Linked DNA regions of Homo sapiens. The protein of the gene in region 1 purifies or fractionates together with the protein of each later gene. This does not show direct contact. Each region holds a gene or a part of one and is shown in the gene's direction. Other genes may lie near its edges.

Region 1 (3,500 bases):
GTGATTTAATAAAATAATCCATACGAGTGATTTAGAATAACACCCAAAAGATTTTATAAAGCTTCATTATATTGTCATCCAAGAAGTTACACTGCTGGCATTTAAAATAAATTTTAATTGTGGAAAATGTCTTAAATGTGAGGTTATTTGGAGAAAGCTATAAGTCATTTATGTAATAAGTCACTATAAATCATTCTTTAGTAAAATCACTGAGATTAATTACTAATGCACAGTGGTTAGATATCCATTTAGTTGCCCTCACCATCTGGGAGCAATTTGGAGAAGACAGGGAAAATGAAAAAAACTGTAGGGTAACAGAATTTTGGATAAATGTGCATAAAGCTACTTCAACATATTAGAAGGTGCATGTGGGCTAGGGGTACAGTGAGGTATAGAGTCTTCGAAATAATATTAGTACTGGAATATCATATCTTTATATCCTTTATTGAATATGCATTCCAGAAGGAGAAGGAGAGAGAGAAGAGATCTATTTACAGAGTCCTGGGATACACAGAAGGTAAGTTTATACGGAACTGTCATTTTTTTCTTTTGTAATTTACAGATGCAAAGTCAGTCTCTTTTGCAGTTAGCAATCTTATATTTTATTGTCCTTTCAGTAACCTGACCATGCAGTTGCCTGTAATTTAAATATCAGCTATTTGGAGAAAGTTATTTTCTGAACTATTCTATTTTTAATACCCTTTGAAACTAAGTTTTTTATATGAATATAAATAAAGGAGCAATTACCCTGGCGTAATAACAATCAACACTATGCCTTCCCTAAATCTTTGTTCCTTTTCTAGGGCTGCTGTGACAAATTACCAAAACGGGGTGGCTTAAAACAACAGAAATCTATTCTTCCATAATTCTGGAGGGTTGAAGTACAAGAAACAGTGTCAGAAGTACTGGTTTCTTCGTGGGATGAGAATCCATCCCATGCTTCTATCCAGCTTCTAGTGGAGCTGTCGATCCTTGGCTGGTAGACACATCGCTCCAATCTCTGCCCCTCTCATCACTGTTCTCAGCTGTGTGTGTGTGTCTGCCTTCCTTCTTTTCTTATGGAGACCCCAGTTATCTTGGACTTAAAGGCCCACCCCTCTCCAGCACAGCGTTGTTTGAGCTTAGCTAATTACAAGGATCCTATTTTCAAATGAGGTCACATTATGAGGTTCTGAGGAGGACATGAATTTGCAGGGGACAGTATCCAACCCAGGAGAGGACATAATATTTTTATGTCATAAGGTTATTGTGATGGTTAAATTGCATAAAAGAACCAGAAGCGTAGCAAGCACATAGAAGAACGTAATGATATTCATTATTATTATTATCTTTGGAGGTAAGTTATTAGTGTATACTTATACAACCAAAGAACTTTTTTATTTCCTTATGGGCTGCAGGAGTTTGATGAGCTGTAAAAGTTTCTTCCTTATTCTGCCTTGCTGCTGCCCCTTAGTGTTTAACTAAAAGACTAGAAACTTCCTTCTGGGTTTGCAGATAAGAGGGATATGTATTTTCATGCTCGTTATCCCCACTATACTTCAAATCTCTTCCTTTAATGCATAGCATCCTGTTTATGAAATTTCACAAAAAAAGTTGCTATGGATTGAACATTTATGTCTTCCCAACATTCATATGTTGAAATCCTAATGCCTAATGCGATGATATTAGGAGGTGGAGACTTTGGGATGTAATTAGATCATGAGGGTGGCGTCTTCGTGAATGGGATCAGTGCCTTTTTAAGGACAGAAGAGCTTGCTTCCTCTTTCTGCTCTTTGCAATGTGAGGATACTGAGAAGACAGTTGTCTGCAAACCAAGAAACAGGCCCGCAGGCCCTCACTGGACTCTTTTTTTTTTCTCAAGTTAGGAAAATATTTTCTTAATCTTGGACTTCCCAGCCTCCAGAACTGTGAGGAATAAGTGTTTGTGGTTTAAGCAACCCAGTCTACAGTATTTTGTTACAGCAGCCCAAACTAAGACAAAAAATTCCCCAATTCCTAGCCAAAAGTATATAAATTTCTTTTCATTTTAACTATTCGCAGTGGAATTCTACATGGCCACAAGCCAAGTACTAAAAAGGTTCTGACAATCCAACATGTGTTCATCAGATGCCTTCATAATTTATCAGTTTAACTTTTTATTTATTAAGTAGTTACTTTTGCAAAAAATATTTTTTTTGTTTGTTGGCAAAAAACATGGATTGCTTCTTGATGCCAACTGTAGAATCAAGAAACCTTGCTTTATTTCATCAGCCACTTCAGCAAGAAATAAATTGGTGCTCTGTCATACACAATTTTGGGATTCCCTTCTTCATCCTTAGCCTTTGTCTACTCATGCCAGTCTAGTCACATTTATTGTTGTGAATTTGGGGAATGAAAGGGAGCTTTGCAACGGTCTATATTAGGTATCCAACTTTTTCAGGTTTTTGTAGAATAATATTTTGAAGGATTATTAAAGAGTTAATAGGTTGGACTGTCAAAAAAAGACATTAGAACTACTTCATTCTCTTTTTTAAAAGATAACCTCTATAAGTAATCATGGCACTTGAATTTTCATTTTGCTTTCTTCTTAAAAACACTAACATCTGGCTGGTCATGGTGGCTCACGCTTGTAATCCCAACACTTTGGGAGGCTGAGGTGGGCGGATCGTCTGAGGTCAGGAGTTTGAGACCAGCCTGGCCAACATGGCGAAACTCCATCTCTACTAAAAATACAAAAATTAGCTGGGCGTGATGGTGCTTGCCTGTAATCCCAGCTACTCGTGAGGCTGAGGCAGAATTGCTTGAACCTGGGAGGTGGGGGTTGCAGTGAGCCTAGATTGCGCCACTGCACTCCAGCTTGGGCAACAGAGCGAGACTCTGACTCAAAAAAACCAACAACACTAAGGTCAATCTAAATTTTTAAATTACTCATCAAAAGACCTTTCTCTAGTTTCTTTTGTCTCTTAATTTGTCTTTCTTTTTTCACACCTGCATATTTTCTGTTACATACATACATATGTGGTCAAAGTGACTTGATTACGGTAGAGAAGATTAATGATTATACAATATCATCTTGATGTCAGTTTTGTTAACTTTTTATATGTTAAGTTGCTTATTTTTTAAAGTTCAGACACTGTGTTAGAATTTCCATATAAAAATGATAGTAATTGTTCTTATCAAAATAGCTTAACATTGGGAGAGGGAGTTCTACATTGAAACAGGTAATTCATAGCACAATACAGCAAGTATTAATCTAGACTAGATTTCTGTTGCATCTCAGTCAAGAATATGATTTCCAACAGAAGTTCAATACAATGAGAATGTTTTATCAAATTAATTATAATGGAAACTTGTCCCATATCATGCCTGCATTTATGAGAGGTATGTTTTGAATGTCTTCATTAGTTGTTGAAATGCAGTGAATTATTGACACTCTCTGCTGTTTGTCTTTCTAGGCACCCAATAACTATAGAAGTCCCATCTCTACCAGTCAACCTACCAATCAATCCATGGATGATACA
Region 2 (4,229 bases), about 20 Mb from region 1:
GAGTGCAATGGTGAGATTATGGCTCCCTGAAGCCTCAACCTCCCGGGCTCAAGCGATTTTCCCACATCAGCCTCCCGAGTAGCCGGGACCGAGGGTGTGCCAACCACTCCCAGCTAATTTTTGTATTTTTTGTTGAGACAGTGTATCGCTATGTTGCTCAGGCTGGTCCTTCCGAACTCCTGGGCTCAAGTGATCCTCCCACCTTAGCCTCCCAAAGTATTGGGATTACAGGCATAAGCCACAGGGCCCAGTCTACTTTGGGTTTTAATATGTTTTCCTGTCATAATTCTGCAAGCTCAGTGAATTTACTGGCAGTCTATGCTAGAAAAGAATACCTAATATTTGTATAGTACTTTACAGAGTACACTGGCACATATTGACTATATAATGGGAATAACGGTGCTATCTGTTCCATAGGGTCATTTTGCGAAATAATAGTGCATGGCAAATAGAAAATAATCCATAATGTGAATTGTTATTACTACAGTCATGTCAACATTTCCTGTAATGGCAGAATCATCATCATGCATATATTTTAGGTGAGGAAACTGGCTGAGAGAGGTGAAGTAATTGCTCAAAGACGTCAGTGTGGAAACCTCAGCTCATTTGACTTCAAATTCCATAGTTTTGGCACTATCTCATATTGCTACTCTTTCCCGTGGGACCTGTCCTTTCCGACAACTTTGCAGGCAGGGCTAGCCCTGCCAGCTGCCTCCATCAAAAATTATTTTGCTATTTCTCAATTCTCCAGAATCCCACACAATATTGCTTGACTTTGGGATGGTTATTCAGCTGCAATTAACAGAGGCCTTAATAAGGTTAAGCCGCCAGAACGAGCGGTGTAGCATGAGCGAGGACTCTAGCACCTGGCAGGTGAGGTTGACTCTAGCACCCGGCAGGTGAGGTTTTTGCGCTTCTCTCTCTCTCTCTTTTTTTTTTTTTGAGAAGAGTCGAGCTCTGTCGCAAGGCTGGAGTGCAGTGGCCCGATCTCGACTCACTGCAATCTCCGCCTCTCGGGTTCAAACGATTCTCCTGCCTCAGACAGCTACTTTTTGACTCACTGCAATCTCCGCCTCTCGGGTTCAAACGATTATCCTGTCTCAAACAGCTACTTTTTGTATTTTTAGTGGAGACGGGGTTTCACCATGCTGGCCAGGATGGTCTCGATCTCCTGACCTCGTGATCCGTCCACCTCGGCCTCCTAAAGTGCTGGGATTACAGGCGTGAGCCACCGCGCACGGCTGTTTTTGCGCTTCTCGATTTCGCCACGTGGCTTTGCGGTAGCCCAGGAGGTACTAGGAGGGCGGAGGCACGAATAACACCCAAAGGACTACAGTTTCCAGAAGCCCGCGCGCGCCGCGTGCCACGTGACCACCTGGCTGGCGCGCGCGCCTGGGGGTCTGGTCCCTAGCCGCGTTCTCGGTCGCTTCCCTCTTCTCTCGCCGCCTCCTGGCCTCCGCACCGACGCGGCCCGGGCTGGAGCCGAGCCGGGGCCGAGCTGCAGGCCGGACCGGAGCCGGATCTGTACCCGCTGAGACGTGGAAACATGGAGGCCTGAGCCGGTGTGCGCCACCTGGGCTGCGGCGGCGACAGCGACTTCTCCTGACCCCTCTGCCACCCTCCCATCCGTCCGCGGGTCCGTGGAGCTGGAGCAGATCCCCCAGCCGGCTGAGACAGGTGGGCTGTAGCGCCGCCCCCCTCAGCGCGGCCGGGCCCGAAAGCCTGGCTGTCCCCGGCCTCCTGTCAGAGGGGGTCAGGGGCCACCCTCCGCAACCCGGCCAGCGCCCCGGGGCGGCGGCGAAGGGACCCTCCCTTCCCTGCCCGCGGGCGCCTGGGCCACCCGGAGGGGCTGTGCTGACAGCGGACGGACCTCTGTCCGAGTCCGCTGTTGGGAGTTGGGGGATACCGAAGGCCAAGTCGGTGCTTCCGGAGATGGGGCGGTGTTGGTCTGACAAATGGGCGTGTGATGGGCAGGGTGAGCAATAGCTGTTGGGTTTTTCTTTCTTCTTTTTACATTCATAGTTTATCGAGGTATAACTAACATATCAGAAAATTAACCCTTTAAAAGTACAACTCAGTGGTTTTTAGTATATTCACAGGGTTGAGCAGCCATCACCACCCTTAACTCCAGAGCATTTTTAATCACCGCCCCCCCCGCCCCAAAGAAGCTCGTACCCATTAGCAGTCACTCCTCCTTCTCTCCCCTACACTATTGATCTACTTTCAGTCGCCGTGGATTTGCCTGAGCAATTGTGTTTTGACTGAAAAGTGAAAGGGTGGGTGTTTGTGAACTGGGGGCAGTAGTGGGGTTTGAGGGTATTGGTGTGGTAAAGCTGATTGGATAAAGCTGTTCTCTACTGAACAGGGGTAGAGAAGTGATGGGATGATTGTAATCGGCCAGCAAAGCGGGTACCCAGGATAGACTGATTAGGGGGCACAGATGGAGTGAGTTCCTTGAAAGAGGAGAGGGGAAGTTGGAGAGAGGGGTGTGTAGAGCAAGGGTGATGTGCTGAAGGATGAAAACCTGGAGGGTGGAGGCCGTGGAGAGGAATGTAGCGTCCACCAGAGGAACTCAGGTGCTTAGGCTGATGAGTTGAGGGCTCAAGAGAAGAACGAGGTGGAAGGGAAGAGAATCTATAGGAATGGGTGAATGGTTGTTGCAGAGGATGAAATTTATGAATATATGGATTTCTGGAGTGATTATCCTGCTTTGAAGTTTTATTTTAGATAATCCTCTCAGCAACTTGGAGATAGACCGGACAAGTATGAATATTCCCATTCTGTAAATGAAGAACTAGTCTTTTAGAGGTTAGGTGTCTGCCTTAAGCTCATAAACTGAGTACATAGGGCAAAATGAGTTGGAATAATTGATGAAACTATCAGTCGCAAGTGGATTAAATGGCAGAGAACTGAGTTGGGGCAATGTTAATAGGAAGGAGATTCAGCTATTAAGAAGTCTGTGTTGTTACGACATATAGGTCAAGGAGTTTTTATGTTTTTGCACCTTTTAACCATAGAAAAGTTCACACAGTGAAATAATAAAGGGTACTCCCATGTACCCATTACCCAGCTTCAGCAGTTAACTCATGCCAATTTAATTTCATCTATGTCCCTATGCATTCCTATCCCCACTCACAATTATTTTAAAGCAAATCATAGACATTCAATTTCATCTGTAAATATTTCAATATATATCTGTAGAAGATTGAATTGCTTTTTTTTGTTGGTGGTGGTGGGAGGCAGAGTCTCGCTCTGTCATTCAGGCTGGAGTACAGTGGCGTGATCCCGGCTCACGGCAACGTCTGCCTCCTGGGTTCAAGCAATTCTCCTGCCTCAGCCTCCTGAGTAGCTGGGATTACAGGCACGTGCTACCATGCCTGGCTAATTTTTTGTATTTTTAGTAGAGACGGGGGTCTCATCATGTTGCTCAGGCTGGTCACGAACTCCTGAGTTCAGGCATTTCACCCACCTCAGCCTCTGAAAGTGCTGGGATTACAGGGGTGAGCCACTGCACCTGGCCTGCTCTTTTTAATAGGCCCAGAATACCATTATCACACATAAAAATTAATAGTTTTTAATATCTAGAAAGATTTACTGTACTTTAAAAAAGTGTGGTAATCCATTTGATACAAAGAGGATAAACAGTGCAAACGCTTTTATGTTTGACTCTGAAAAATGTGGCATAATTATCTCCTGATTTTTCCATTAGATCCTGCCATCCTGATTGTTCCTTTTTTTTTTATTAATATGGCTCATTTTTCTACAGAAAGTTTGAAGAATTGTCACTTTGGTAGGCTTTTTAATGAATGGAGGGCAGGAGAGAAATAGAAGTGAAATATGTTACAACATGTACAAATGGCTCTTTCTTATATTGCTCCAAATATTTGGGCAATTTGGTTATGCTTTTCTAGATAATTTCACATATTATTAGAAGTTGTTTAATGTTATGTATCAGTTTTCTATGATTGCTGTAACATGTTACCACAAATTTAGTGGCTTAAAACAATGCATTTATTATTTTACAGTTCTGTAGGTTAGAAGTCAAAGTGGGTCTCACTGGCTGTCAACAAGGCTGTGTTCTTCTCTGGAGGTTTCTAGGGGGCATCTATGCCTCTTCCAGCTTCTAGAGGCTGCCACTTTCCTTGGCTTGTGGCGTACCTCCTCTGTCTTCAAAGCCACCAGTGTTGCATCTCTCTGATCATACTTCCATCCTCAAGTCTCTGACCACA
Region 3 (3,500 bases), on another chromosome or scaffold:
GGCAGCAAGGTCACAACAGGTGACAAAAGGAAGGTAAGAGGAGTGCCAGGAAAGGAGGCAGCCTGAGCAAGGCTGTGAAGATCATGCAGCATTTGAAAATCGCCCCACTCCCCTTGCCAGTATGTGTAGTAGTCACTTCCTTTTAAAAAACGCCAAATAAAATTACCATTTGACTTCATTCTTCTGAAGAAAACATAATTTTAGATGTTATATATTTAAATATTTGTAAAAATTATAATTAGGGAGTAAAGAGGCCTGTGATAACTGTGGATATCATTTATCACAGAATGAACCTGATCTGTGCAGTTCTTTAGGTAGCTTGTTAGTTTTTTGTGTGAATATGTTAAGTATAAATAAGAGGGTTTTTGTTGGTGGTGTTGTTGTTGTTGTTTTAAGACAATTCAAAATCAGAAGCTACCCACAGATGCCAGGTCTCCATAATAATTGTTGCCATTCATTGAGAATTCAGTCCAAACCAGCCACAAAGGAGGTTTTGTTCCCATACCATTTTCTCTGTTCCTCACAATAGCCCTGTAAAGTAGATGGCATTATCCCCCATGTTGCTGTTGAGAAGAATAAGACTTGGAGAGCTTAAATAATTTCCTTAAATTCCTGTTACTAAGTAGCAGAACCATAACTTGAATTTGGTCTGTGTCAATTCAGAGCATCTCATTCCTGATTGCCTCTCATTCCACGTCCTTCTGAAGGCAATGTGCTTCCATTTCCTCCTTGCCCCATGATCTTTATTAGCACAAGGGTTAAGCTGTGATTGTGCTGTGTGTCCACCCCACTCTCTGTCCTGCACCTCCCCCATCCCTGGTCATGGGTGATGGAACAGATTCTGTCTCCAGGTAATTTGGAATTGGGCCTGAGAAACAGTTTCTGGATTGGAGTTTATCCACAACATGCAAAATTGGGAGTTTGTGGGCAGCCTCATTCTGCCATGTATATGGCGAGTAGCCTGGAGGGAGAGAAAAGGTGGGCCAACACATCAAGGGGAGAAAGAGCGAAGGCATTCCGGTTCCCAGCCCCAGCCGCTTCCTGTGGCCTGGCCACATACCTGCCTGCAGGTTTCATGTGACATGGCTATGTCTGCCCTTATAACAATTTCTCTCCTTTTTGCTTGTGGTAGCTCAAGGTGATATGTGCTTTGTGCATCCAAAGATTTCTAGTACGTGAGGGGATGAACCCCTGGGGAACACCAACATTTAAAAGGCAGAAGATGAGGACTCAGCAAAGGAGATTGAGAAGAGAGAGTGGTATCTAGGAAACCAGAGAAGGAGAGATTTCATTCCTCAGAGAATTTAAGTGAGAGTCTTAAAAAGAAGCCGTTGAATTGGATGGTTGTGAGGTCATGAGCGACCGTAGGGAATTCCACTGGGATGATGATGGAGGTCGAATTTCAGTGAGTTGAATAATAAACAGAAAGTGAGAAAATAGCAACAGTGAGTGGAGCCTGTCAGTTCTAAGGGTTGTCTCCAACAGGAAAGATACAAAAATGGAGAAGTGGTGGGAGACACAGGAATGGGACTTTTTTTTTTTTTTTTTAAGAAAAGACTTAGAATTGCAGCGGTCAAGGGCTGGAAGAAGAGAATATTATGGTGTTAGGAATAAGAAGGAAGACCTTGGCAAGCAATGGTACAGTCTGAGAAGGGCTTCCAGTGTCCAGGATCCTGAAAGGTGATGGGCTTTGGAAAAACTGATGTGTCTTACAACCAGAGAGTTTAATTTGAGCATGTCTACGTGCAAATGTTGCCAACAGCTTTCTCGGGGTGTCGTCTTGACATTGCAGGTCTCAGCGTATCCTTTGCCGGAGCATCGCAGCACAGCCCTGGCAAACCAAGCTGCCATGCTGTACGTGATTCTCTACTTTGAGCCTTCCATCCTTCACACCCATCAAGCAAAAATGAGAGAGATAGTGGATAAATACTTTCCAGATAATTGGGCAAGTATTGCTAATTTTTTTCCTCTACAGTAAATGTGTTAGAGAACTAACTTCCCATTCTTTTGGCCTTTAACCCACAGGTTGTAATGTTGTAAATAATGGGACATAACATCACTTAGGTAAACTTGCTCTAACTGTATTGAGAATTTTATAATTATAACATGAAGGAATAAATGAGTCAGTAAAACTTCCTGAAGAACCCACTAGTCTTTTTCTAAAATGGATACTCTCAAGATTAAATCATTTATTAAAATGTCTCTTGCTTTAGCTACTGAGATTACAACTAAGTTGTGTAAGAATTTATTTATTCTTTTCCATTTTCTGAATCTAAGATAGCCAAATTCATCTAATTTGTCACTTTGTGAATAGGAATTTCACTTTAATAATAAAGTTTTACCTATAAGCTAACTGTAATGGGGTTACTAAAGTTTATATTATTGCAAGGATATGCTTGTACCTTTGTAAGCATTGTTTCATTTAAAAATATTCTTATAGGAATAAAGCTTGCTTCATAATATATATGAAATGAAATATATGAAAACAAAGAGGCTTTAACAAAATGCAGGGAGTTGGATTATATTCGCATGTAGCAGATTTTGTTCTGCTTCTATATCGGCTGTTGAATCACATAAACTATCGTTATGAGGGGCCTTCAATTTATTGGTAGTATGAGAACAGCCTACATTAGGAAGTGGTGGTTCCTGGCCAACTGTGAATCATATTAGTGAGCTCAGAGTTGAGCAGCCAAGAGGAAAACACTGATAGTGTGGCTTCAGGTTCCTAAGTTTAATAAAGAAGTTTTGACCATGATACTATAATTAAAGACATATTTATTATTAAGAAAGACCAAAATCCAATTACATGAAACCTGTAAGATACACACCTGAAAAAATACCCTAGCACAGTGAAAATGAAGGGATTTTAAAAAAAGATATCCCAGGCAATTGCCAACCAATAAAACAACTGGTGAGAAAACATTAATATTACACAATAGAGAATTTCAAAAAGCAACGTTAATAGGTGTAAAGAGATCTTTATACCTATTAACGTGAATTAACAATCAGGAACACTTACTTAACAATCAGGAACACTTACCTATATATTTGGAAAATCTTGGTTTTTCATTGGAATGGAATTTAAACATGGAGTGGGTATTGCCTTCTATAACTTTAGTATTCAACCCTTTGCCTTGAAGTGAGTAGGAATTTAACAAATTCTGAATGTCTCCTCTTTCAGGTAATTAGTATTTACATGGGGATCACAGTTAATCTAGTAGATGCTTGGGAACCTTACAAAGCTGCAAAAACTGCTTTAAATAATACCCTGGACCTTTCAAATGTCAGAGAACAGGTAGGTTCTAATCTGGGGACATTCTCTGATAACTGCAGGCCTAGTTTATGAAGTAGCAAATAAGCTAAGTAGATTTCCCAAGGAATTTGGAAGATAATCACTTAGATAATTTAATGCAATGATTAATAAAAGGTGAATTTTATAGGTTAGAATAAGATAGGTAATTGTAGGTTTTGTTATATAGTATATGTAAATTGAAGATTAG
Region 4 (4,045 bases), on another chromosome or scaffold:
CCGTTCTCCACTGTTACTTCAAATTGTCCAAGCAGTGAGTGTAAATGATAGAAAAAGTTGGAGTGAAAAGGAATACCAAACTGATATTACAAAGAGCTACTTCCCCAAATTCTCCAAATGCAGGAAAGTGCTGACAACAGCCAGCTGTATTTGAGGGATCTTTGTCATCACCTGCCAACCTTTTCCGGGTTTATCTTTGAAGACTAAACATCTCCCTGTACACAGTTTATGTTTAGACGGGAACCAAATAACAGATTATTATTTACTGAGGGCCTGTGATGTCCCACGCACTGCGGAAGCAAGCACTCAACAAGCATTTCACGTATCCTAAAGACAGCCCAGTAGCGTAGGCCTATTATCCCCATTTTGCAGAAGAGGAAACTGAGGCTCAACAGAGGGAATGCCTCAAGTAATGGGTGGGGCAGGAGCTGAACCAGGCAACGTGGCTCCCAGTCCCACACTGTCCTTATCTCTTCCTACCTGGGCTGTCGTTTTTCTGACCCGAGGCTACTGTAATGGCTCTATTTACCTGCTGGCCCTTGAGTCTGAGACCCTTGGGGTGCATGGTGGGGCCACGCCCCTCCACTGTCTATAAGCCAGGAAAGCTGAGCACTCAATATGAACCAAGCCTCATCTCAATTCTCACAGCCGCACTACAGGGTGGTCGTTCCATCACTCCCGACTTACGAGGAAACTGATACGCTGATGCCTCTAAGGCGCAAAAGGCGTCGAACCTGGACCACGCTCACAGAGCAAGCAAAACACGACGCCACAGGTATCTCCGCCCCGCCCCAGCCCTTTTATAGGCGAGCCCTACGGGTCGCGTACAGGGCCACGCCTAGACGCTATTTTTGGGTCCACTCCACCACGTCGGTCCCGCCAAAGGTTGTCACGCGCGGCGCACTCTGGGAAAACCACGTGGAGGTGACTAAAAAGGACCCTGCCGCCTGTAACTTTAGTTGTCTTAGCTACTGCCTACAAAAGATGCGCCATCATGGCACTTATTTTTGTAATTTTCCTCCACCAGCGGCCGAGAAGAGAGCCGAAGCCTTTGAGAAAAATATTCCCAGACGGTTGAGTGTTTCTGGGCACATCAGGCATTCATTCGGGCCGCCTGCCCTCTAGTGGGGGGGTCCTTCACTCCTGGCACCTCTGGTTACGGACAACATACAGAAGCCACTGCCAATGAGCTCCGCCGAGTAGCACCGGGGCAGGGCTAGCGCTTAAAGGAGCCGCGACCCCTTTGCAGACCAGAGGGTGACCCGGATGATGGCGGCCGGCGCGGCCCTAGCCCTGGCCTTGTGGCTACTAATGCCACCAGTGGAGGTGGGAGGGGCGGGGCCCCCGCCAATCCAGGACGGTGAGTTCACGTTCCTGTTGCCGGCGGGGAGGAAGCAGTGTTTCTACCAGTCCGCGCCGGCCAACGCAAGCCTCGAGACCGAATACCAGGTAGAGGGTCGCGGGCTGGGCGGCCAGCAGAGTCAGGGAGAGGGGGCGTGGCCAAGCGGTCGAGGCGAGGCGCGCTTTAGGAGGAAGGGGGAGGAATCCGTGCTTGGGAGCGCGGGGGCGGAGCTAGAAAGAGATGGACAGATGGGGCGGGGACGGTGTGTGGGAGCGGAAGGGGAGGGAGTAATGAAGCAGGCGGGGCTAGAGTAAGAGATCCAGAGGGGGCGGGGCCATCGATAAGTATAGGGAGCCTCTGAGAGGACAGGACTCTGGCTGGTGGGCGTGGCGATAGTGCTGATAGGTCAACTGCGGGGGCGTTGCCCACACAGGCCTTTCTCGGGGGTTAGACTAAGGAAAAAGGCTGGGCCTATCCTCTTTCGGAGGCGGAGCCAACCAGGGGCGTGGTCAGGTAAACGTCCATTAAGTACTTTTGGTAGGTGCGTGGTCAGCTGAAAGTATGGACCCCAAGCTGTCATATCAATGAGGGTGGAGGCAAGGGGCGCAGCCACTGGGACAGGTTGGGGCGGGTGTGGGTGTGCCGCCGTTCAGGTAAGCCCTTGGTGGTCTGTATTGATCAGTGTTGGTTCAGCCGTAGCCCTCTTCGGCAGGCGCCCTTGGCCTACCGCTAGCCCTCCACCCGCTCTTACCTGCCCCCCAGGTGATCGGAGGTGCTGGACTGGACGTGGACTTCACGCTGGAGAGCCCTCAGGGCGTGCTGTTGGTCAGCGAGTCCCGCAAGGCTGATGGGGTACACACGTGAGTTCAGTCTTGATGCCTGCCTGGGTTCAGTTACAGCCCTGCCCTTCCCAGGCGGCCTCAGGTTACCGCCCTGACTGCCCCGCTGAGTCGGCTGGCTGGCCACCCTGGGTCATGTCTGTGTGTCTGTCTGCCCAGGGTGGAGCCAACGGAGGCCGGGGACTACAAGCTGTGCTTTGACAACTCCTTCAGCACCATCTCCGAGAAGCTGGTGTTCTTTGAACTGATCTTTGACAGCCTCCAGGATGACGAGGAGGTCGAAGGATGGGCAGAGGCTGTGGAGCCCGAGGAGATGCTGGATGTTAAAATGGAGGACATCAAGGTGTGTCCAGGCTGCGCTGGGGCCACTCCTTCCAGATCTCTAGGATTCACCTGGGGTGCCCCCCTTGGGCTGACCCAGCCTCCCCTCCGTAGTTGTGCCCTCCAACTGAATTATAGTAAGAGTAGCAGCTCTTAAAATAAGTAGTTCATTTCAGGCCGGGCACGGTGGCTCACGCCTGTAATCCCAGCACTTTGGGAGGCTGAGGCGGGTGGATCACCTGAGGTCAGGAGTTTTGAGACCAGCCTGGCCAACATGGTGAAACCCCGTCTCTACTAAAAATACAAAAATTAGCCGGGTGTGGTGGCGGGCGTCTGTAATCCCAGCTACTCAGGAGGCTGAGGCCAGAGAATGACTTGAACCCAGGAGGTGGAAGTTGAACCTGGGAGGCAGAGGTTGCAGTGAGCCGAGATCGCACCATTGCACTCCAGCCTGGGCAATAAGAGCAAAACTCCGTCTCAAAAAAAAAAAAAAAAAAAAAAGTAGTTCATTTCTAGGTATAAACCCTGGTGTAAAGGTTTAAGGAACTCATATCATAAATAACTCATACCGTAAATCTCCAAACCACCTTGTGAAGCAGACCCTGTGCTCAAGTCATCCCCATTTTACAGGTGGAGAAAGTGAGATACAAGATGGCTGAGCAACTCACGGCCACACAGACCAACTAGCAGAGTTGGTATTGAACCCATGCTGGTTTCAGCAACTATGCTCTTAACCACAAGCAAATATGTTCTGTACATTTATTAGTATTTTAATTAACTACTTATTTATTTATTTTCTAACAGATCTCTCTTGGTCACCCAGGCTGGATTGCAGTGGCACGATCTCAGCTCACTGCAACCTCTGCCTCCCAGGTTCAGCCAATTCTCCTGCCTCAGCCTCCTGAATAGCTGTGCCACCACGCCTGACTGACTAATTTTTGTATTTTTAGTAGAGACAGGGTTTCACCATGTTGGCCAGGCTGGTCTCGAACTCCTGACCTCAGGGGATCTGTCTGCCTTGGCTTCCCAAAGCTCTGGGATTACAGGTGTGAGCTACGGCGAGGCAAGGTCTTGCTGTGTCACTCAGGCTGGAGTGCAGTGGTGTGATCATAGCCCATTGCAGCCTCAAACTCCTGGGCTCAAGCAATCCTGCCACCTCAGTGGGACTACGGGTGTGCACCACCATGCCTAATTTTTTGTTTTCTGTAGAGACGAGGTTTCACCATGTTGGCTAGGGTGGTCTTGAACTCCTGGGTTTAAGTGATCCTCCTGTGTTTGGATTACAGGTGTAATCTTGCTTCAGCCTCCTGAGTAGCTGGGATTGCAGTTGCACATCACCACCCCTGGCTAATTTTTTGTAGAGATGGGGTTTTGCCATGTAGCCCAGGCTGGTCTCAAACTCCTGGGCTCAAGCGATCCTCCCACCTCAGCCTTCCAAAGTGCTAGGATTATAGGCATGAGCCACCATGCTCATCCTTGTACATTTATTTAGGCATTAAATGTTCACAGCAATTTGGAAGCTTATAGAAGAGGAAACAGGCTC
Region 5 (3,500 bases), on another chromosome or scaffold:
AACATTCTCATCACCCCAAAAGGACACCCAGACCCCGTGAGCAGTCACTCTCTACTCCCCAAACCCCAGCCCCTGGCACCCACTCATCTGCTTTCTCTCTCTATGGATTTGTCAGTTCTGGAAGTTTCCTATGAATGGAATCAGACAGTACGTGGCCTTGTGTGTCTGGCTTCTGTGAGGCTGATTTTTAACGAACAACTCAGAGGAGCTGAGAAGGAAGGTCCAGTTCAGAGTTTCTGCCTCCTCCTGCCCCTGAGGTGCAGGAGACAAGGAGAGCAGCCCTCACTCTGTTGCCCCAAATGGCAGACCCCATCGTCGGGCTGTTTTGTGGTCTGGGGTTTTTCACCTCCTGCGAGGGATTTGGAGCACACCTGCTGCCAGGTGAGAGAAGGGAGGCGGGCACGTGACAGCCCAAAGAAAACGCCCCACTAGCGTAAAGGCGATGTAGGGATGGAGATGTCTGTTTTCATGGGCATGAAATCCTGGTGATGTGGACCCCATGAGGAGCCCCCAGGAGCTACTGGGTTTCCACCCCCAACCTTCCCGGGCAGGCGGCCCATGGAAAGGTGACTGCCTCCTCTCCATAGGACTCTCCTCTCAAAGCCGTGCAGATGTTGTGGGTGAACTTGATCATGGACACATTTGCCTCTCTGGCCCTGGCGACGGAGCCACCCACAGAGTCGCTGCTGCTGCGGAAGCCGTACGGCCGCGACAAGCCCCTCATCTCCCGCACCATGATGAAGAACATTCTGGGCCACGCCGTGTACCAGCTCGCCATCATCTTCACCCTGCTGTTTGTCGGTAGGCTGGCCAGGGGCACCCGGGAGGACTTCAGGACACTGTTGCCACCACCTCGGGCTCAGATTCTGTCTGGTGTGTCTCCACCTGTGTCTCCGCACCCAGTACGGGGTGGGACGCTGCACTTCCTGACTGGACAGCACACAGGGGAAGGAGCAGATGGGCCAGGCTAGCAACCCTGCAGCCAGGCCTGCTGGTGGCCTACAGCTCTTTCGCAAGCCTCTCCTCCCAGGCCGCTGAGCAGCTGAGAAACAGTTCATGTCTTGACATCCTGCCCACGGCTGTGTAGCTGTGTAGAGTAGGCAGCTTCTACCCAGCCCCAGAGTGGCCACGGTAACCCTAGGAACAGAACAGCCCACATTTACCCTGTGAAGATTGCTCCTGTGGAGTGACTGGGGTGCCGTGCTGGAAGCTGTGAGGTGGGTGGGGGGTGACCGCAAGAGAGAGGAAGAGGAGGAGGGCGTCCGAGGAAAGCCAGCCTTAAGAACTTCCCTTCTTAATCTCTTCCTTCCTGCCCTCAGGCTCAGGGTCTGGCCCCTGGCCCAGAGGGGTCTCAGGACTCTGGTTGGTTGAGCCTGGGGTGGGTGTGGCTGCCTTGGGCCTTGGCCGTGAGCTGGAAGTGGCCATCCCCTGGGACAAGGGACCCATCTCGGGAGCTACACACCGAAGTCTCGCTCCTGAGTAATGCGTCATGCGCTGAGATGACTGTGCCTGAGTGGGGAATGTTGCTTTCCAGGGGAGCTCTTCTTCGACATCGACAGCGGGAGGAATGCGCCCCTGCACTCGCCACCCTCAGAGCACTACACCATCATCTTCAACACGTTCGTCATGATGCAGCTCTTTAACGAGATCAACGCCCGCAAGATCCACGGCGAGAGGAACGTGTTCGACGGCATCTTCAGCAACCCCATCTTCTGCACCATCGTTTTGGGCACTTTCGGGATTCAGGTAGGAGGGGCGGCTCCACTCTTGGCCTCTGCCACTTGCAAAAAGTGGAGGTGGTGGGCTTCAAGACCCCTCGTCCACCCCTAGTACTGGCCTCCCCACCTCCACTCCCAGAAGGAGCCCCACCCCACCTGGCTTTCCTGTAGCCCCCGTCCTCTCTGCATGTCGGAGAGGGCCTTCTTCATCTTCCAAACATTGCCGGCCTTGCCCTGGGTGAGCGCGCTGGCTTCCAGAAGGGTTTCGTGAGCCCTCATCGGAACGAAGTTTTCTCACAGATGCTGGAAGGAGTCCTCCCTGGCTCCCTCTAGGTCTGCCATTCCCATTTCTAGCACTTAATTCCTTGGCATGAGGCTGCCATAACTCCAGAAGTTTCTTTTGGAGATGACCTCTGTGCCCAGTGCTGACACACTAACCTCTGCTTCCCACAGTGCTGTGGACAGGCTGGTCAGCCCCACTGTCTAGGAGGGGCTAAGTGTTCTAAAATATAGTGTATTTGTAGAAAAATTGAGGTATAGTAAGGCCAAAAGGTCAAGAGACAGTTGCCACTGAAAGACAGTTTATGACTCAGAGACCCCAAGAGGAGGACACATGCCACACCATAGGGGCCCACATGGGAGAGCGCCAGGCAGGAGGTGGGGTGTGAGAGCTGTGGACAAGAGCCTTTGCTGTGGTTCCCTCGGGGAGGAGCAGGTGAGGCAGGGCTGGTAGGCTCAGGACTGGCTAGGTTGCGTCATTGCAGCGGTTCCAGGGCATACGGGTGCTCCCTGGCTGTCTGGTACCTGGTCCTGGGTAATGAGTGCAAGGGGATAGTGGCCCGGAATGTGACAGTCCAACAGAGGACGGGGTCAGTTTGCATTTGGACAGCTTGCCCCTGCAAATTGGATGCCTCCCGAGGAGGCAGGAGGCCAAGACAAGGTGACCTCGGCAGGTTCTAGGGTCCTCCAGAATGAGGCATGTCCAGCGTGCCCGCAGGGTGGGTGTCACAGCCTCCGTCTTGCTGAAAATAGGAGCATGGTCAGTGGAGCTGGGCCCCACTCCGAGGCTGGAGTCAGTAGGTGCCTGGCACCCAGGGGCGCTGGGGGCCATGCACTGCTCTGTCATCACGCCCCCGGCCTTGTGGTCCTCTCGCAAGGAGCAGCCCGTGCAACTGGGGGAACCAACCAGGGTGGCTGGGTCTTCAAGGGGTTGGAGGACAAGGGTGGCTCAGGAGCCGCGGCTGGACCTGCCTCTCTCCCACTTGCCCTTCGCAGATTGTCATCGTCCAGTTTGGCGGGAAGCCCTTCAGCTGCTCCCCACTATCCACAGAACAGTGGCTCTGGTGCCTGTTTGTTGGTGTTGGGGAGCTGGTCTGGGGACAGGTGAGTGACAGCCCTGCCCCTCATTTCAGACTGCCCTGCAGACAGCTTCTGTGATGGGCCCACTTGCCCTAACCCTGCTTCAGAGCCTTGGGGTCCTCACCCTAGGAAGCACACTGAGGGCTCAGGCCTGTGACACACCAGGACCCAGGGACAGGACGCAAGGGAAGGTGTCAGCAAAAGAATGCAAAGGAACATGGCTGGGATGTGACAGGGCCCAGGAAAACTGCCCGCAGCTCCCCTTTCTATGATAAGAGCCAAAAATTGCCCCTTCCAATTGGGTGGGTAGCTTGGGAAATCCCCACATATTTTAAATCAATCAAACAGCACCCTGATCAATAATCCATGGGGCGAAAAGAAAGTCTCCAGAGAAATTAGGAAATATTTTGACCTGATGGAAAG
Region 6 (3,500 bases), on another chromosome or scaffold:
TAGGTGACCAACACAATGATTTATGTTTAAAAGTCTCTGGATTTGACTCTGCGTTCTAAGCTTTGTTAATTATTAAACTTGGGACATTCTGGCAATTCCCTGATAATTTTTAAAGCTGTCAGCAAATTTTAATCACTCCCTTTGGGATAAACAGAGACATACTGGGAGGATAGCTGGTTAATACATAACTTTCTTTTTTGATGTTTTAAAAGTTCCAAGATAGTTGTAGACTAACTTTTTAGAAATGTGTATGGTGTATAAATGAGTATGCACTGAAATCTCTTTTACCCAAGGGGCAGATCATCTCCAGAGACTTGGCAGAGCAATGACATCTCCCACATGGAACTGGACAGCAGCACGTTGCATCTGTCCCGCGTCTCTCAGTTTTAGTGTTTGGGTGGGTGGAACCATGGAAACTATCTTTTGCAATTCTGGAATAGTTCTTGTTCAATCCCCAAAATAAAAACTAAAAAAGGCAACTTGAAGCAGAAACAAGAAAGTTTTGGCCAGACTTAGGAGAGGAGATTTGGTCATTTGAGGGTGGCAGGCACTTGTTTGAGATCCCTGGAAGTGTTGGAACCAGACTTCCAAATTGTAACCAACACCTGGCAGGTGATCTTTGTGGCAGGGAGAGCAAGCCTGGCTGCAGGCTAGTGGTACTGGCTTTGGCAGGGAATGTCAGAGATGGCTCACAAGGGGTTATGAGTTGAGGTGTGTGGTGGGCAGATGTGGCCCATATGTTAATGGCAAAGCCTCTTTCTCACCTTTGGTGAAGAAAAATGGAGAACTTCCCTGGGCTCCTGTAACCCACTTGAATGTCCTAAAAAATAATAATTATATAGATATGCCTGAAAATTTGTATATCCTAGTCAAGGAAAGAATACACAGAGGTAATACAGCAATATTAAAAGAACATACGATTTATCTTGGAAGGTTGAGACGGGAGGATTGCTTGAGCCCAGGAGTTTGAGACCAGCCCTGGCAACGTAATGAGACATGGTCTCCACACACACACACACACACACACACACACACACACACAAAGGCTGGGTATAGAGGAGTGCACCTGTAGTCCCAGCTACTCTGGAGGCTGAAGTGGGAGGATCACTTGAGTCCAGGAGCTCGAGGCTGCAGTGAGCTATGATCATGCCATTATACTCCAGCGTGGGCCACAGACAAAGACTGCCTATAAAAAAAGACTGGGAGGGGGAGAATAGGCTTAGTGTCAAACACACTAGTTATGAATCTCATTTCTTATGCTTACCTATGTGGAACCTTAAAAGGTACATAACCTCCCTGTATTTCAGCTGCCTCATCTTTAAAATGAGACTCATAATGCCTTCCTGGCCGGCTTGTTTCAAGGATTGGAAAGAATGCACATGTAGGACCATAAACAGTGATCACTTCGGCTTTGGCTTATAGGTGCCTTACTCTACCTTTTTGGAAATATATCCTTGTTTGTCCTGTAGAGTTTTTCAATCTAAGGGAGCAAAAACAGGCATTTCTATGTAATCACTTCTTTTCACCAACCAATAATTTTTCTGGATGTGCAGCATAGATAAGGTGGCAACAGGACGCCATGTATACATGTGGGCATCAGGAGAGACTCGCCTGACTTCAGCCTCATCCTGGCTCAGCCAATTCCTTTATCCCCCCGCAAGGGGCCTGAGGAACTCAGGCTCACTTTGGGCTCTGAGACCCACTGGGTTCCGCTTCAGGAGAAATTCTGGAAGTCTTAGATCTGTACTTCAGCCTCACCTCAACCTGGCTATTATTCCAATTCTGATCTGGTCTTCATTTCAGCCATTTGATTCCTGTCTTAACTACAATAGAAGATAAATGCATTAATAACAAATGATATTATTTATTTAATAATATTATTTAATAATAAATGATAAAAAGGTAGCATATCAAGCGTTATCTACATGCTGTACAAGGTGTTAGGAGCTTGATTAGAATGACAAAAGCTCTGTGAAGGTTAAGAATGACAAAGCCTTGTTCTTTCTGCTTGATTCTAACACCCCTGGGACACAGTGTTGGGGCCGGTTGGTGGGCTGTGTGAGTAGAGCCAGTTGCCACTAGAGTCACAATTTCTAGGCCCCCATGTGTCCTCAGAAGTCACCAGGGCAGGTTTAAGGCTTGGCTTGGCATTGACAATGGTCACAATTTTCTTCTCCTCTGACTGGGTATTGAGGTCTAGGCTCCCTGCCATACATTCAGGGGCAGTGGTGGAGCATAGGGGTTAAGAGCATGGTGTCTACCCTGGTTCCACCACTAACTAGCTGTGCCACCTTGGGCAAAATAGTTAGTTAACCTTCCCATGCCTTACTTTTCTCATTTGGAAATGGGGATAATAATGGTATCTATTTCACAAAGTGGCTGAGAGAATTAAAGGAGAAAATACATGTAGAGTGCTTGGAATGTGGCTTGGCATTTGGCAGGCACACAATAGATATTGATGATTATTGTTCATCAGGCTGACAAAATGTCCACTAGCAACTAGTGGTCTGAAGTGCCAGTGTGCCAGCTTCCTCACTGTCAAACTTTGGGCTGAGGAAGTGGTTTGTGGCTGTGCATTTGAATGCACTGACACACACACACACGCGTGCATGCACACTCGGAGAACATTAGCCTGTAACAGAGATTCTGCTTCCAAGCCCTGTTTTCTTGGCTTGTATATGATTTACTAACACAGATGATGTGAGAAAGTCAGCAGCTTAATTTAAACAAAAGGCTTTAACTCTAATTATTTTAATATGTATTTTAAGAGATAAATATGTCAGAAACTATAAATGCAAAACATTTGTATACGAAGAGGAAGGAAGATAACACAGCTGTTAAACACAAAGGGCATTGGAGGCCTGGGACTTGGGCTCAAATCCCATCTGTTCCCCTAAATGTGGAGCTTGGGCAATAGGGGTGGCAATAGTAACAGGTTAGTTTTTTTGTGGAGTTCAATTACAGATGATTTTCATTTTTTTCCATTTTCTGTAATTTACAGATTTTCACAACAAATATGTATTATTTCTGCAACTCACGTTTCCAGAAACACCATACTCTTCCCTCTCCAAAAAAATTCCTCAAAGTATAAATCACCATGATGGAATGTGACTGCATCTTTCATTTATATCAGTGGCTTTTCTTCTTAAAAATATTTGAGGGAATTTTTGTTATTAATAAGTGTGGTTATTGGCCAGGCATGGTGGCTCACACCTGTAATCCCAGCACTTTGGGAGGCCAAGGTGGGTGGATTGCTTGAGGTCAGGAGTTCAAGACCAGCCTGAACAACATGGTGAAACTCCGTCTCTACTAAAAATACAAAAATTAGCCAGGCGTGGTGGCGCATGCCTCCAGTCCGAAGCTACTTGGGTGGCTGAGGCAGGAGAATCACCTGAACCTGGGAGGCAGAGGTTACAGTGAGCCGAGATTGTGCCACTGCCCTCCAGCCTGGGAGACAGAGTGAGACTCTGTCTCAATAAATAAATAAATAATTAATAAAT
Region 7 (3,500 bases), on another chromosome or scaffold:
AGAGGGCAGGGGGTGGAGGGGCATCTGGGGTCGGCTCTGTGCAGCTCCCCAGCCAGTGACTGTCGAGAGGGGCTCCCGTGCTGCCTGAGCATCTGAGTGAATGGGGGGCTGTTGTTCACAGGAGGGATTTGGAGGCCCACAGGAGGCCTGAGACTCCCTGGTGGCCCTGCAGCTGAGCTGGCAGGGCTGGGCCTGAGGCCTCTGGCGTGGCCCGGGGCCAGTCAGTGCTGCATAGTGAGTCCTGAATGTCAAGTGGGTCTGGCTGTCCTGCCCCGGGCAGGGGCCCTTGAGGGCAGCAGAGCCTTCTCTTCAGCTAGAGCATCGCAGGCCTGCACCCTCGCTCTGTCGCTTCTTCCTGCGTGACCTTGGGTGGTCCAGACACTGTCCTGGGCTTTATTCGGGGGAGGCCTGCCTGCTCAGCTCCCACCAGCCCTTTGTGACCCCGTGTCCTCAGGCAGGGATCAAGTTCATGCCCACTGACCTCAGCCTCTCTCTCGGGCTGTCTCCTCCAGCTCAGGGCAGGCCAGATGCAGGACAACAGCTACGGACTGTGGTGGGTTGCGAACCCAGGCGGTGGGAGCCCAGTGGTCAGGGAAGGCTTCCTGCAGGAGGTGGTGTTAACTGGCTTGCCATGGAGGTTGCAAGCCCGGCTGCCGACAATCAGAGGGTTAGGATTTGCCTGCTCATTTCTGACTCCTCCATGGGCCGTGCTGGCCCTGGCAGGTGATGGTTTCACTGGGACATCTGCCTTCCAGGGCAGATAGTGGGCCCTGCCTCAGTTTGCCTAGCATGGGGGACGTGTTTTCCACTAGAGCCTGGAATGCCCAGATGTTTCTGTTGAGACCTTAATGATAAGACTGAGGTCACCATACAGAGACCTTGGGGAAGAGCTTCTGGGCTGGGGGAACGGCAGGTGCAAAGGCCCTGAGGCAGAGAGAAGCTTGAGCCTCGGGGAGAGGCCTCAGCCCCACGTGCCAGAGGGTCGCTCTGGTCTGACTGCGCACGGGGAATGTGCTGCCTCAGGAACTGGTGAGCCCTCTGTTCCAGGCACTGTGCCAGCCCAGGCTGGATGGCCACTCAGAGGGGATCTGAGCTCTGGGAGTAGGGCCAGTGTTCTCCTAGCAGAGTTGGGAGCCTGGCTCCTAAGAGCACAACACCTCTGTCTGTGCCGCCACAAGGTGAGGTCAGCCTTGTGCCCAGTTGCAGCCTGGGGGGCAGTTCCCTGGGGCAGGGCTGGCCTGTTATCATCCTCCCCACTCATCAGAAGGAAATGAGTTCTGGTTAAAACGGCAGTGTTGGTCGCCTGTCGCCTGTCTTGTCATTTACGAAAGCAGTACACGTTCATGGAACATTTGGGGAAAAGGGAAGAGCGTGAGACAGAAGCGTCCCTCCAGCTGGGTTCAGTCCAAGAGCATAGAGCTGTAGGGTGGGTGTCCCTGAGAACTGGAATCCTATTGCTTTTGACATGTCTCGTACTTTGGACCGTGTTCCAGATGCTTGTCCAGCGTCCCACGGTGCCAGGCAGGATTCTGTACCTACAGATGACAGAAGCGGGCCAGACACGGAGGCCCCCGGGGAGCTGGGTGGAAGCTTCAGGAGCAATCCCTGAGTGGACAGGAGCTGATGAACTAGGCTGGGGGTGTACAGCGAATGGGACCCTGCATTGGGGGGTGGAGGTGGGCAGGAAGCCCCTGATGGCTGGTCCCAGTCCACTCAGGATTTCCATCTTGGCCGGTGTCTGCATTCCTGGGGAGACTCCGATTGGCTGAGCTTGCCTTTTGGCCAGGGGGTGTGAAGCTGTGGGCCCTGGACCTGCTTGGGGTGGGTGTCAGGCCACCCTTGGCCCGGCCGCTGCCCGCATCAAGGGTTCCTATATCTGGGCTCCTGGTTTTTGTGGTTCTGAGGGTACTCTGGCCACCTCTGTCCCCAGGAGACTCTGGGGTTCTCAAGCCCCTTCCTTGGAGTGCAGCAGCCTGGGACCCTCTAGAAGTCCCCGAGGTCTTCACGGCTTTTTGTAGGTGTGGATGTTGGGGTGGTTATTCTTGCTCAGGGTGCTGGCTCCCTGATCTCCCCAGTTCTAGCATCACCAGGGGCCACTCCAGTCTGTGTGTGCGGGACCCCCGCCTGCCCCCCACTCGCCTGAGACTCGAGGGCCAGCTCTAGGACCCCTCTTCTGGGCATCTCCATGGTGACCCTTCTTCCTCCCCTGACCCCTGGGCAGGCCCTGCCAGCCAACCCCGTCTAAGGGATTTGCAGTGTCAGCCGCTCTGACCCCCGGCCGGGGGCTCTTGGTCAGGCTCTGGGGGAGCGGGGAGCCCTGCAGCTTGGTTCCCCAGGCCACGGCGGCTCTCCCCGGATGCTTGTGCTGCTCGTTTCTAAAGCACTTTTCTTGGAGAGCCACCCAGTGGCCCTGGGAGGTGGACACTGTGTCCCCGACATAAGCAGAAACGGGGGCCGGCCAGCATGGGGGGCCGGAAGACTGGGCACGGGTTCCAGCTGCAGCCCAGCCACGTCCGTCCCAGTGGATACAGCGTCAGCACAGTTCGTGAACCCAGGGGTGCAGGTTTAGGGGGCTCAGGGGCATCTACACTTCCCCCACCTGCCCCACCGTCAGTTCTGCTGAGGCCTCGGCTAGAGAAGAGGAACCGAATCTGCAGCCAGGGGCCTGGGGTCAAGGACATGGGAAGTGCCTGACGTGGCCACCGGGGAATTGGCATGTGACAGCGGGTGGATGGTGGGTGTGGGAGGGTCACAGGAGGGCCTCCTGTACCCGGGCCTGCCGCTATGTTCTGCAGGGAGCCCACCCAGGCCCTGTGCTGGGCCTCACACCATCCGAGGGGGCTTCTCACAGTCTTGGGAGGCTGGCTGAGACCTGAGTCCTGTGGGGCAGCACCCACTGTGGCTGGGTCAGGCCCATGTTGGCCGAGGGTGTGGGAGGAAGCCGGGCCACCCACAGAGTGCCAGTGCCTTCGGCCTCTGAGGAGGGTACCAGCCACAGTGCCCCTAGCCGTTCTGCCCCCCTCGGGCCTGTGCACGCTGGCTGGGTTCCTGGCCATCGTGGAAGAGCACTCCTGAAGTTCTGGGGTGCACCCAGCTCTGAGCCCTGCAGCCCTGTGTCTGGGGTTCGGCCGTGCCCTCTGGGCTGCCTCTCCCTGGTAGGGAGCTGATCCCGGAGATGGGGCTCCAGTCTGGCGGCTCCTGGCTGGGTCTGAGGCCTGGGGCCCGGTCCCCAGGCAGCTGGTGCAGAGGGCTGCAGACAAGTGGGAAGAGCAGGGGATTTTCCGGGTGTCACGCTGGGAGATGTGTCGGAGCACGGGGACCAAAATAGACACGCTTGCTGCAGCTCTTTGGTGTCTGTTCCTTGCACGAGGGGGAGGGCGGGCGTGGGCAGCGGGAGAGCTGGGGTCCCCCGGCTACAGGGTGCAGGAAAGGGGCCCGGCCTGTGGGGAGACGGGCAGGAGCGGCTCTGAGCCTCAGCCCCAGGGCTGCCTCTCTGGCCT

What was found.
Region 2: the proteins of CD226 (region 1) and DYM purify together in Homo sapiens (co-immunoprecipitation; one large-scale study listed by IntAct). This does not show direct contact.
Region 3: the proteins of CD226 (region 1) and WASHC5 purify together in Homo sapiens (affinity purification with mass spectrometry; one large-scale study listed by BioGRID and IntAct). This does not show direct contact.
Region 4: the proteins of CD226 (region 1) and TMED1 purify together in Homo sapiens (co-immunoprecipitation; 2 studies listed by BioGRID and IntAct, with this or other methods). This does not show direct contact.
Region 5: the proteins of CD226 (region 1) and ATP2B3 purify together in Homo sapiens (affinity purification with mass spectrometry; one large-scale study listed by BioGRID and IntAct). This does not show direct contact.
Region 6: the proteins of CD226 (region 1) and MAOB purify together in Homo sapiens (co-immunoprecipitation; 2 studies listed by BioGRID and IntAct, with this or other methods). This does not show direct contact.
Region 7: the proteins of CD226 (region 1) and TTYH3 purify together in Homo sapiens (co-immunoprecipitation; 2 studies listed by BioGRID and IntAct, with this or other methods). This does not show direct contact.

Annotation. Positions count from the first base shown.
Region 1 is NC_000018.10:69,864,374-69,867,873, reverse strand, and holds part of CD226 (CD226 antigen isoform a precursor), read left to right. Parts: exon of another isoform or gene 1-127; intron 128-462; coding exon 463-517; intron 518-3,434; coding exon 3,435-3,500.
Region 2 is NC_000018.10:49,457,846-49,462,074, reverse strand, and holds the start of DYM (dymeclin), read left to right. Parts: upstream 1-1,429; 5' UTR 1,430-1,677; intron 1,678-4,229. UniProt on the Homo sapiens protein: Necessary for correct organization of Golgi apparatus. Involved in bone development.
Region 3 is NC_000008.11:125,074,793-125,078,292, reverse strand, and holds part of WASHC5 (WASH complex subunit 5), read left to right. Parts: intron 1-1,792; coding exon 1,793-1,945; intron 1,946-3,181; coding exon 3,182-3,295; intron 3,296-3,500. UniProt on the Homo sapiens protein: Acts as a component of the WASH core complex that functions as a nucleation-promoting factor (NPF) at the surface of endosomes, where it recruits and activates the Arp2/3 complex to induce actin polymerization, playing a key role in the fission of tubules that serve as transport intermediates during endosome sorting.
Region 4 is NC_000019.10:10,833,413-10,837,457, reverse strand, and holds the start of TMED1 (transmembrane emp24 domain-containing protein 1 precursor), read left to right. Parts: upstream 1-1,245; 5' UTR 1,246-1,266; coding exon 1,267-1,449; intron 1,450-1,717; exon of another isoform or gene 1,718-1,855; intron 1,856-1,866; exon of another isoform or gene 1,867-1,926; coding exon of another isoform or gene 1,927-1,995; intron 1,996-2,104; coding exon 2,105-2,202; intron 2,203-2,340; coding exon 2,341-2,524; intron 2,525-4,045. UniProt on the Homo sapiens protein: Potential role in vesicular protein trafficking, mainly in the early secretory pathway.
Region 5 is NC_000023.11:153,559,142-153,562,641, forward strand, and holds part of ATP2B3 (plasma membrane calcium-transporting ATPase 3), read left to right. Parts: intron 1-587; coding exon 588-801; intron 802-1,534; coding exon 1,535-1,746; intron 1,747-2,993; coding exon 2,994-3,101; intron 3,102-3,500. UniProt on the Homo sapiens protein: ATP-driven Ca(2+) ion pump involved in the maintenance of basal intracellular Ca(2+) levels at the presynaptic terminals. Uses ATP as an energy source to transport cytosolic Ca(2+) ions across the plasma membrane to the extracellular compartment.
Region 6 is NC_000023.11:43,875,951-43,879,450, reverse strand, and holds part of MAOB (amine oxidase [flavin-containing] B), read left to right. Parts: intron 1-3,500.
Region 7 is NC_000007.14:2,634,986-2,638,485, forward strand, and holds part of TTYH3 (protein tweety homolog 3), read left to right. Parts: intron 1-3,500. UniProt on the Homo sapiens protein: Calcium-independent, swelling-dependent volume-regulated anion channel (VRAC-swell) which plays a pivotal role in the process of regulatory volume decrease (RVD) in the brain through the efflux of anions like chloride and organic osmolytes like glutamate.